Linked DNA regions of Homo sapiens: region 2 is linked to region 1. Evidence: fine-mapped expression QTL. Tissue or cell type: whole blood. Region 1 holds a variant in brackets; the other region holds the start of a gene. All regions are shown on one strand. Distances are between the middles of the regions.

Evidence for each region. PIP is the estimated chance that this variant, and not a neighbour inherited with it, causes the effect.
Region 2: PATL2 starts here. The variant in region 1 is fine-mapped to the expression of PATL2 in whole blood (TOPMed, PIP 0.94).

What each region holds. Positions count from the first base shown.
Region 1 is chr15:44,674,152-44,678,500 of GRCh38, reverse strand. PATL2 (PAT1 homolog 2) reads left to right here. Exons shown (of 18, transcript NM_001387263.1): 4 at 1,936-2,026; 5 at 2,810-3,015; 6 at 4,271-4,349. The coding sequence starts at 2,011. Among named protein-coding and RNA genes, the nearest start is that of SPG11, 13 kb to the right of the region's middle. RefSeq lists an enhancer at 2,782-2,831. The variant T/G (reference allele first, on the strand shown) is at 1,927.
Region 2 is chr15:44,709,476-44,713,475 of GRCh38, reverse strand. It overlaps PATL2 (PAT1 homolog 2), which reads left to right and starts at 2,153. Exons shown (of 18, transcript NM_001387263.1): 1 at 2,153-2,456; 2 at 2,547-2,605; 3 at 3,262-3,380. B2M (beta-2-microglobulin) reads right to left here and starts at 1,959. Exons shown (of 4, transcript NM_004048.4): 1 at 1,863-1,959. The coding sequence starts at 1,929. RefSeq lists an enhancer at 1,476-2,138.

The DNA of each region.
Region 1 (4,349 bases):
ACATCTAGGGGATCAGTAGACATATGAGACTTCAGATAAGGGTAGGGGACCTTCATAAAAAACAGTAGGTCCCAAGTGAAACTCCAAACAGCCAGGGCAGGGCTGTGATCTTTAAGACTGAGCCCTAGTCCACCTGCTTTGGTACTAGTCAGTACCAGAAGTCCCTTCAGAATGAAAATCTTCATGCAACAAGTTTCTCCTTAAGATCTAGTCTCTACAACAACCTAATGAATCACCTCTGGAACACTGAAATTCACCATGTGGTCCTTTTGTTAATAGTGCTAAAGTACGTTATTAGGAAGTTCCTGAGAGAAACAGCTGAATAACATTACCAAAAAGGCCAGAACCCAGCTGGGTGTGGTGGCTTGTGCTTGTAATCCCAGCCCTTTGGGAGGCCAAGGCAGGTGGATTACTTGAGGTCAGGAGTTTGAGACAAGCCTGGCCAACATGGCGAAACCCTGTTTCTACTGAAAAAAAATATATATATATACAAAAATTAGCTGGGCATGGTGGTGGCCGCCTGTAATCCCAGCTACTCGGGAGGCTGAGGCAGGAGAATCTTGAACCCGGGAGGTGGAGGCTGCAGTGGGCCAAGATCATGCCACTGCACTCAAGCCTGGGTGACAGAGTAAGATGCTATCTCAAGATATATGAGAAGTTTTTCAGTAACTTTCAAGCTACTTATATTTGTTCCCCCACCCATATAGTTATGACCTGCAGTAAAACTTCTGAAACAAATATTTTCCTTTAAAGGCACCAAGAATCATGGTCTTATCACCATGACAAGAGGGTCCTAACTTTCATTTTTGATGTAGGGAAATTAACTTAGTTTTTATTCTTATTCAGAAGTTCTACAAAGTCATGTGGGTTTCAGCTGAACACAGGATGTGGGCACAGAACCCAGGGTTGCTTGAGGGTTAGATGAGACTTGGGAGGGTGTTGGGTTTTGCCTACCAGGAGCAGCTATGTTTTTGTTTTTGTTGTTGTTGATTTGTTTTTACTCCTGAGCTTCTGGACCAGTTTGCCATTAGAGCAGCCAAGAAGATGTAAGACTGTGTATCTCATGCAAAAGTGTTTTTACCATGAAGATCTGACTTCCAAATTCACAGGGGTCTCTCATCAGTCAGAGCTGAGTAGCTGACTTAAGCTCACATGACCCGGTGAAGGGCAAGCATCATCAGGTGGACTTGAGGGCTTCAAGTACGCTGCCCTGAAGCGCCAGGAATGTGGTTGCTAGGCATCCTCCCCAGGATCTACCCAGGACTTTCCTATCCAATTTTGTTGAAGCAAAACCTAGGGATTAAATTAAATGCAACCTCACAAACTACCAATGAAGGGTGTGGAAAACAGGGATCCTCTTTTTAACTATCTGCCCCCAAATATCAATCCCAATAAACTGTACTAAAAGCCATGGATGGCTAAAAATGCAGTTTATGTCTTTTCTCCATTCAAGCGTTTTTTTAATCATTAAACTATGTTCTCATATTTCCATCAGGCCCCAATGGATGGAGGATGCTAGCCCTTTAATGGGTGAGCAGGGGAGGAGCTGGGACTTTTAAAGCCAGGAGCGGCAAACAGGTCCTGGCCCAGGCTGCTATGAATAACTTAAACAGAAAGGACAGCAACAGTCAGGTGGTGGGTGTCGGCAGCAAGGCATCACCACACTCGGACGGTGACTGGTGATGTCGGTTGGGAAGTACTTCTCTTCCTGCTTCTAGCCTGTGCCTCATTTCTGTCCCTTTGTGGGACAGCTCCCTAGAGCCGAGCTGGGAGGGTGGGTGTTTATGGCAGTCTGAGACCCCAGGGTCTCTCTCCTCAAGACCATGGCCAAGAATTCTCTAACCATCTTGCTGGGAGGATTCCATGGCTGTTTTAGGGTGCCATGTCATCCTTACTGACTGAGGATGGTGCCTCTTGGCCTCTTTC[T/G]TGTCTCAGGTTTACCTTCCAGAGGCTGGCAATGCTGTTTCACTGGAGGACACGGCTAAGAAGGAAGTCCACCAGCCTGCCAAGATGAATTGCCTTGAAGGTATCAACAAGTGGGCCGTGATGTTATATAAAATGCCCCAGCATGCAGAGGTTGCTGGTCTGTTTCACATATGGGATTGGATGTCCAGAGTCACTGGAAGTTATTCCAAATTCTTCCACTTGCTAATTATATCATAATGGGTGACTGAAAGGTCACTCTTCTGGGCTTTATTTTTCTCACCAACCTAGTAAAATTATCAACAACAACCCAGGACAGCCTCATATTACTGTTAAATGAACATATGCACGTAAAGTATATGGCACACAGTAGGGTTAAATTGCAGTGAGTCAGGGCAGGTGGAACTTGTTCAAAGAGGCAATAGAAAGGGCGTTGGGTGGGGCAGAGCAGATGGAAAAGGCTGTGCTAGAACTTAATGAAGGAATTGAAGAGGGGATGTGAAAGTGAAGGTGTTTGGTATCTGCCGGGTTCCTTTTGTTTGCTTTTTAAATTTTTTACTTAGAGACAGGGTCTCACTGTGTTGCCCAGGCTGATCTCAAACTCCTGGGCCCAAATGATCTTCCCGCCTTGGCCTCCCAAGTAACTGGGACTACAGGCACGAGCCACCACACCTGGCTCAGGTTCCATTTGACTTACTGGGGGATGGTTCGGGGCACCTTGGGAGAAGGGAGGCCGAGTTAAACCCACAGAACAGGAGGCGTTATGTTCAAAGGTGGTGCTGGAGATGGCTTATGAACAGAAGTGCTATTGAGTAGCAGCCTCTCTAGACAAGACTCACAGCTGAGCCCCATCTTACCTTCTCCTCTGGCCCACACTTAAACCAAGGGCCAGGTAAGACCTGTGGCCCCTTGGCTTCTGAGGAGGAGCTGGTGTCTGCCTGCCAGTTGGAAAAAGAAGAAGAGAATGAAGGGGAGGAGGAGGAAGAGGAGGAGGACGAGGAGGATCTGGACCCAGATCTGGACCCAGACCTAGAGGAGGAAGAGAATGATCTTGGGGATCCAGCTGTACTTGGTGCTGTCCACAACACCCAGGTACCATGGCAGAAGGGAATGGGAGAGGGTTGTCCTGAACTGTCTGTGGCTCACAGGCTGTCACTAAACATTCCTCTTCTCTTTTCTACCCTTTTCTAAGACAAGTTCTGGATTAACACTTTCTTTTTAAGCCTTGAACTTGAGTTAGGGACTCTCTCCTTCCCTCTTTCTCCTGTCTCCCACTTCATTTCTGATGCTGTTCTCGCCTTAAAACCAGGTCCTAGCAGAGCTGTGCATCGCCCACAGGCGGTGGCCCTGCTACTAGCGTTAAAGGTGAGTCACGTTTGCCTGATCCTGGGCCCCTCTGTCTCAGTAGTCCATTCCTGGTATTTATTCCCCTGGATCCCATAACTAGTGGAGAAGGACAAGGACTCCTATGTAGATATGAGGTGATTTCAGAACTTCCTTCAACCTACTACTAAGGTACAGTAGTCCATGGTTTCACTTTCTGCCATTTCAGTTACCCTTGGTCAACTATAGTCTGAAAATAGGCAAGTATAGTACAATAAGGTATTTTAAGAGAGACCACATTCACATAACTTTTATTACAGTATATTGTTATAACTGTTCTATTTTTATTGTTCATTTCTTATTGTGTCTAATTCTTAAATTAAACTGGCCAGGGGCAGTGGCTTATGTCTGTAATCCCAGCACTTTGGGAGGGTTGCTAGAGGCCAGGACTTCCACACCAGCCTGGGCAACAAAGCAAGACCCTGTCGCTACAAAAAAAAAGAAAAAAAATTTTCAAAAATTAGCCAGATATGGTAGCACATGCCTGTAGTCTCAGCTACTTAGAAGTCTGAGGCAGGAGGATGGCTTGAGCTCAGGAGTTTGAGCCTGCAGTGAGCTATGATGGTGCCACTGCACTCCAGCCTGGGTGACAGAGCAAGACCCTGACTCTAAAAAAAATTTTTTTTAAATATATATATAAACTATCATAGGCATGTATATATAAGAAAAAAGCACTATACACAGGGTTTAGTACTATCCAGTTCTAGGCATCCCTTGGGGGTCTCGGAACATATATGTCTCATGAATAAGGGAGGACCACTGCACTAGTCTTATTCCTCCCAGGAGAGGGAGAGGGATCCTGGCCCAGCTGACTTTGAATCTGAGGGAGGGCCAAGCTGCCACTGCCCTGGATGTTGGAACACCTGGTCTTGCTGCTTCCTCCCACCACCTCAAAAACACAGGTGAATGCAGAAGACACTACAGGGGCCCATTTGAGCCTGGTTTTTCCTCCCTCCTGTTCCAGAGAGCTCTGCTTAGCTCCCCTGGAGTCAAGGCCCCTGGTATGCTGGGAATGTCACTTGCCTCCTTGCATTTTCTGTGGC
Region 2 (4,000 bases), 35 kb before region 1:
CACACAGGTCAGAGGAGGAAAATAGACCTTCAGAGGCAATCATCATTACATGTTTCTTGTGGTATCTTCCAGAAATGGTCTATGCATGGCATGTATTACTTTGGAAATTTTCAAAATAAGATTTTTTTTTAAATATCAGATTGTTATTTTTTAAAATGACATCTAACATAACCAGCAAATACCAGTAATGGTGGTGATATATACATTATCCTTTATGTTGTAAATAAATTGTATTCAAATTAAATGCAATTTTCTCATGATCAAAACATTCTGCTTTCGATCATGTTTTGCCAGAGGAAAAGGTGAGCGCGCTTAGTGTATTGCCAGGTACTTAGAAAGTGCTCAAGATCTCTGGCGTCCTCAACAGTCTTGGTAACCATCTTGGATTATCTTTATTAATGGTTTTACAGCTCCCCTGACTGACAAACCTTCACTTCTTTCTTTCTTTTCTTTTCTCTTTCTTTTTTTTTTTTTTTCTTTTTTGAGAGACAGGGTCTCGCTCTGTTGCCCACGCTGGAGTGCACTGGCGCCATGATAGCTCAAAAGCCTAAGCTCAAGAGATCCTCCCGCCTCAGCCACCGGAGCAGCTGGGACCACAGGCACGAGCCACCACACCCGGCTAATTTTTGTTATTATTTTTTGTAGAGACCAGGCTTCACCATGTTGGCCAGGCTGGTCTCAACTACGGACCTCAAGCCATCCTCCCGCCTCGGCCTCCCTAAGTGCTGGGATTACAGGCGTAAGCTACCACGCCCAACCCCCTCATGTTTTCAAAACCGAAAGTAAGAGGCACAGTACATCTTGGAAACAACCAGGCAAAGAGCCAAAGAGGAAGCCCTCTGTACGAAAAGACCACAGGGCCCATGCCGCCCAGTTTGCTCTGGAGAATCTCACGCAGAAGGCAGGCGTTTTTCTTAAAAAAAAATGCACGAATTACAGCCAAAAGGCATGCGCTCCCGCAAAAGCCCTGGTTAGGCTTGACTTCAATCTCGATTGCTGCCATTTATCCCCTGTGTAATTAAGTTTCTTAAAATCTCGGTGCCTTAGTTTCTTCATCTGTGAGAGGCAGAAGATAACCATAGTAGTTATCTATGGCGGAAGATAACTGTTTTCAAAATTAAATGACGCAAAGCACATAAAGTCCTTGGCACACAGAAAGATGTCAATAACGGGTAGTTCTTATAATTTTTTAAAAGTGACATGTGATGGGAACAAATAAGTTAATTATTCGAAACCGCTTTGTATCACAGCCAAGCATTCTACAAACGTCGCGTGCTGTTTCCTCCCCACGGTGTGGCCCCACATAGACCCAGAGGTGCTAGGACATGCGAACTTAGCGGGCGCCTAGACGAAGTCCACAGCTCTCCAGTCTAAGGGAAGCAGAGCCGCAGCAGACAGGCTTACCCGGGCGACGCCTCCCCCAGACCCCAAGCGCCCCTCCACGCGTTCACAAACCTCAGCGCCGCGCCTTTGGGACGAGCCTACCCGTCCCCCACTCCAGCTGCGCTGGGGGAGCCAGAGGCCCCGCGAAAGAGCGGAAGAGAAACCCTCCCCCAACCTCGGCGCTCTGACGCTTATCGACGCCCTAAACTTTGTCCCGACCCTCCCGTCGCCGTAGGCCAAAGGTCTCCCCTGCTCCCCGCCGAAAGGGGCAAGTAGCGCGCGTCCCGGGTGCGCACCCCCTTCCCCACTCCCAGGCCACCCCGCCGCTTCCCCGAGATCCAGCCCTGGACTAGCCCCACGGCGGGCCACCAAGGAGAACTTGGAGAAGGGAAGTCACGGAGCGAGAGAGCACAGCGAGGGCCACAGAGGGTGCAGAGCGGGAGAGGAAGGACCAGAGCGGGAGGGTAGGAGAGACTCACGCTGGATAGCCTCCAGGCCAGAAAGAGAGAGTAGCGCGAGCACAGCTAAGGCCACGGAGCGAGACATCTCGGCCCGAATGCTGTCAGCTTCAGGAATGCCCGCCAGCGCGACGCCTCCACTTATATTAAACGCGTGCCCAGCCAATCAGGACAAGGCCCGCAGGGACCGTCACCTGTCTCCAAGCCAGCGACGCAGTGCCAGGTTAGAGAGAGGGACTTTCCCGTTTTCAGTTTCCTTTTCTTAGAGTCTCGTGATGTTTAAGAAGGCATGCACTAGACTGGGTGAGTTTGCTGTCTGTACATCGGCGCCCTCCGATCTGGGGTGCGCGCCCCAGCTTGGGACACCGGGCGCTCATTCTAGGACTTCAGGCTGGAGGCACATTAAGGCTGCCCCCTCGCTTTGCAGACTGGCCCCAGAGATGCTAAGTGACTTGCTAATGGTGCCCCAGCCAGTTAACTGCTCGGACCTGCATTTTTCATTCGAGAAAACGGAAACCCAGAAGATTAAGATCTTTGAATGCTACCTAGCAGAAGGAGAACTTCTGTTTATAACTACAGCTTGGGAATTCCCTGCAGGGTTTCTCCATTCTCTGGGTAAGAAAAATAGTCCCAAAAGCATCCTGAGGACAGCTCAGAGAAGGTCCTAGTGAAAGAGTACCTTTCTTGCTTCTTGTATCCCTTCAGGAAAAAGTGTTTGGAAAGTTCTGTGCCAAGAAGTTCCTCCCTATGTCCTTGCTGTTTAGGTAATTTTCTTTGTTCTGTTGATTTGTCGGGGGGCGGGGGGGAGAAAAAAACGACCACTAATAGTAAAAGCAGTAACTGCTAGGGCTTTAGAGCTTCCAGCGCCCTCTAGGTACATCATTCTCTTAGTTTCCACCCTAGAACAGGGGCTGGCACATAGTAGGTACTCAGTAAACCGAATGAACGAATGGATGGATGAATGAATGAATTAGTGAATATATAAATAAACTGTAGGAGGAAAGAATTACCCCCATTCATTTTATGGACAGGGGAAACAAAGGCTAAGAGACTAGAATTCAAACTCTGGCCTGATTCCATTGACATTAATATTTTAGACACTGGAAGACAAAGGGCTCGGCAATTTTAGTGAGAGTTTGGACTGCATCTGCCTTGGACCCAGCCAAGGACGTTAAACATGACAGGCAGACCCATTAAGAAAACCTACCCTCTAAAGTGACCATAAATAAGGTGCCGCCATTTCGTGGTGGTGGAGTCCACAGATCTTTTCTAAGAGGAACAGTGAGAAGAGGAAGTGGACCATGGCGATGGGGAGGGGCAGAGATCTTGGAAGTCACCATGGTTTTCAGTTGAAAGGATTTGCCTAGCTTCCCCAAGGAGCACAACAAATAACTTCTAGGTTTCTTTTACATATTTTTAGGCTTTTGATAATCTTTATTGTGGAGGCCATGCCTAAACTAAGAAAATGCAATACTCTCCATGGACCTAATGAAATGAGATAATGCACAAGAGAGAGCCTCCCACAATGCCTGGTACATAGTAAGTGTTCTGTAGTGTTTAATAAGCGCTATAATTATTAATATTATTTACCTAGTTTTTCTACCAGCCCTCTCAATAACTAAAATATGAGAATAATTGTTATGCCTAAATGTATGAGTTAAGACACTCTTGCTCCCTCCCTTTTCCCCCTTTTAAAAACTCATATAAGGCACTAAAGGCCTGAAATGTTAGTGTTGAGTTGTACTAGAAAAGTGCCTTAGAAGTTTAGCAAGGGACAGGGCTATTTTTGCCTCTAGTTTCTTGTTTACTACATCACAGAGAAACACTAAATTTAAAATCCATTACAGATAGATTCTGATTTACTCACTTGGAAAACCAATTTAAAAACCAATAAAAAACAGTACAGATAGAAAAAAGTCGATTTTACAGTTTTCTTTGGGGGGGAATACCTGTATTTTTCTTGGACTTACCATTTATGACATGTTTTGAATAGTGAGGGGGAAAATTATGTATACAACTATTTGTTTAAAAACAAGAGCACTGTTTGCCTAGGATGGCAAATTTGGGAAGTCTACAAACATGACAATTTCTTTTTTTTTTAATTTTTAATATTTTTGTGGAGACAGAGTCTTGCTGTGTTGCCCAGGCTGGTCTCGAAC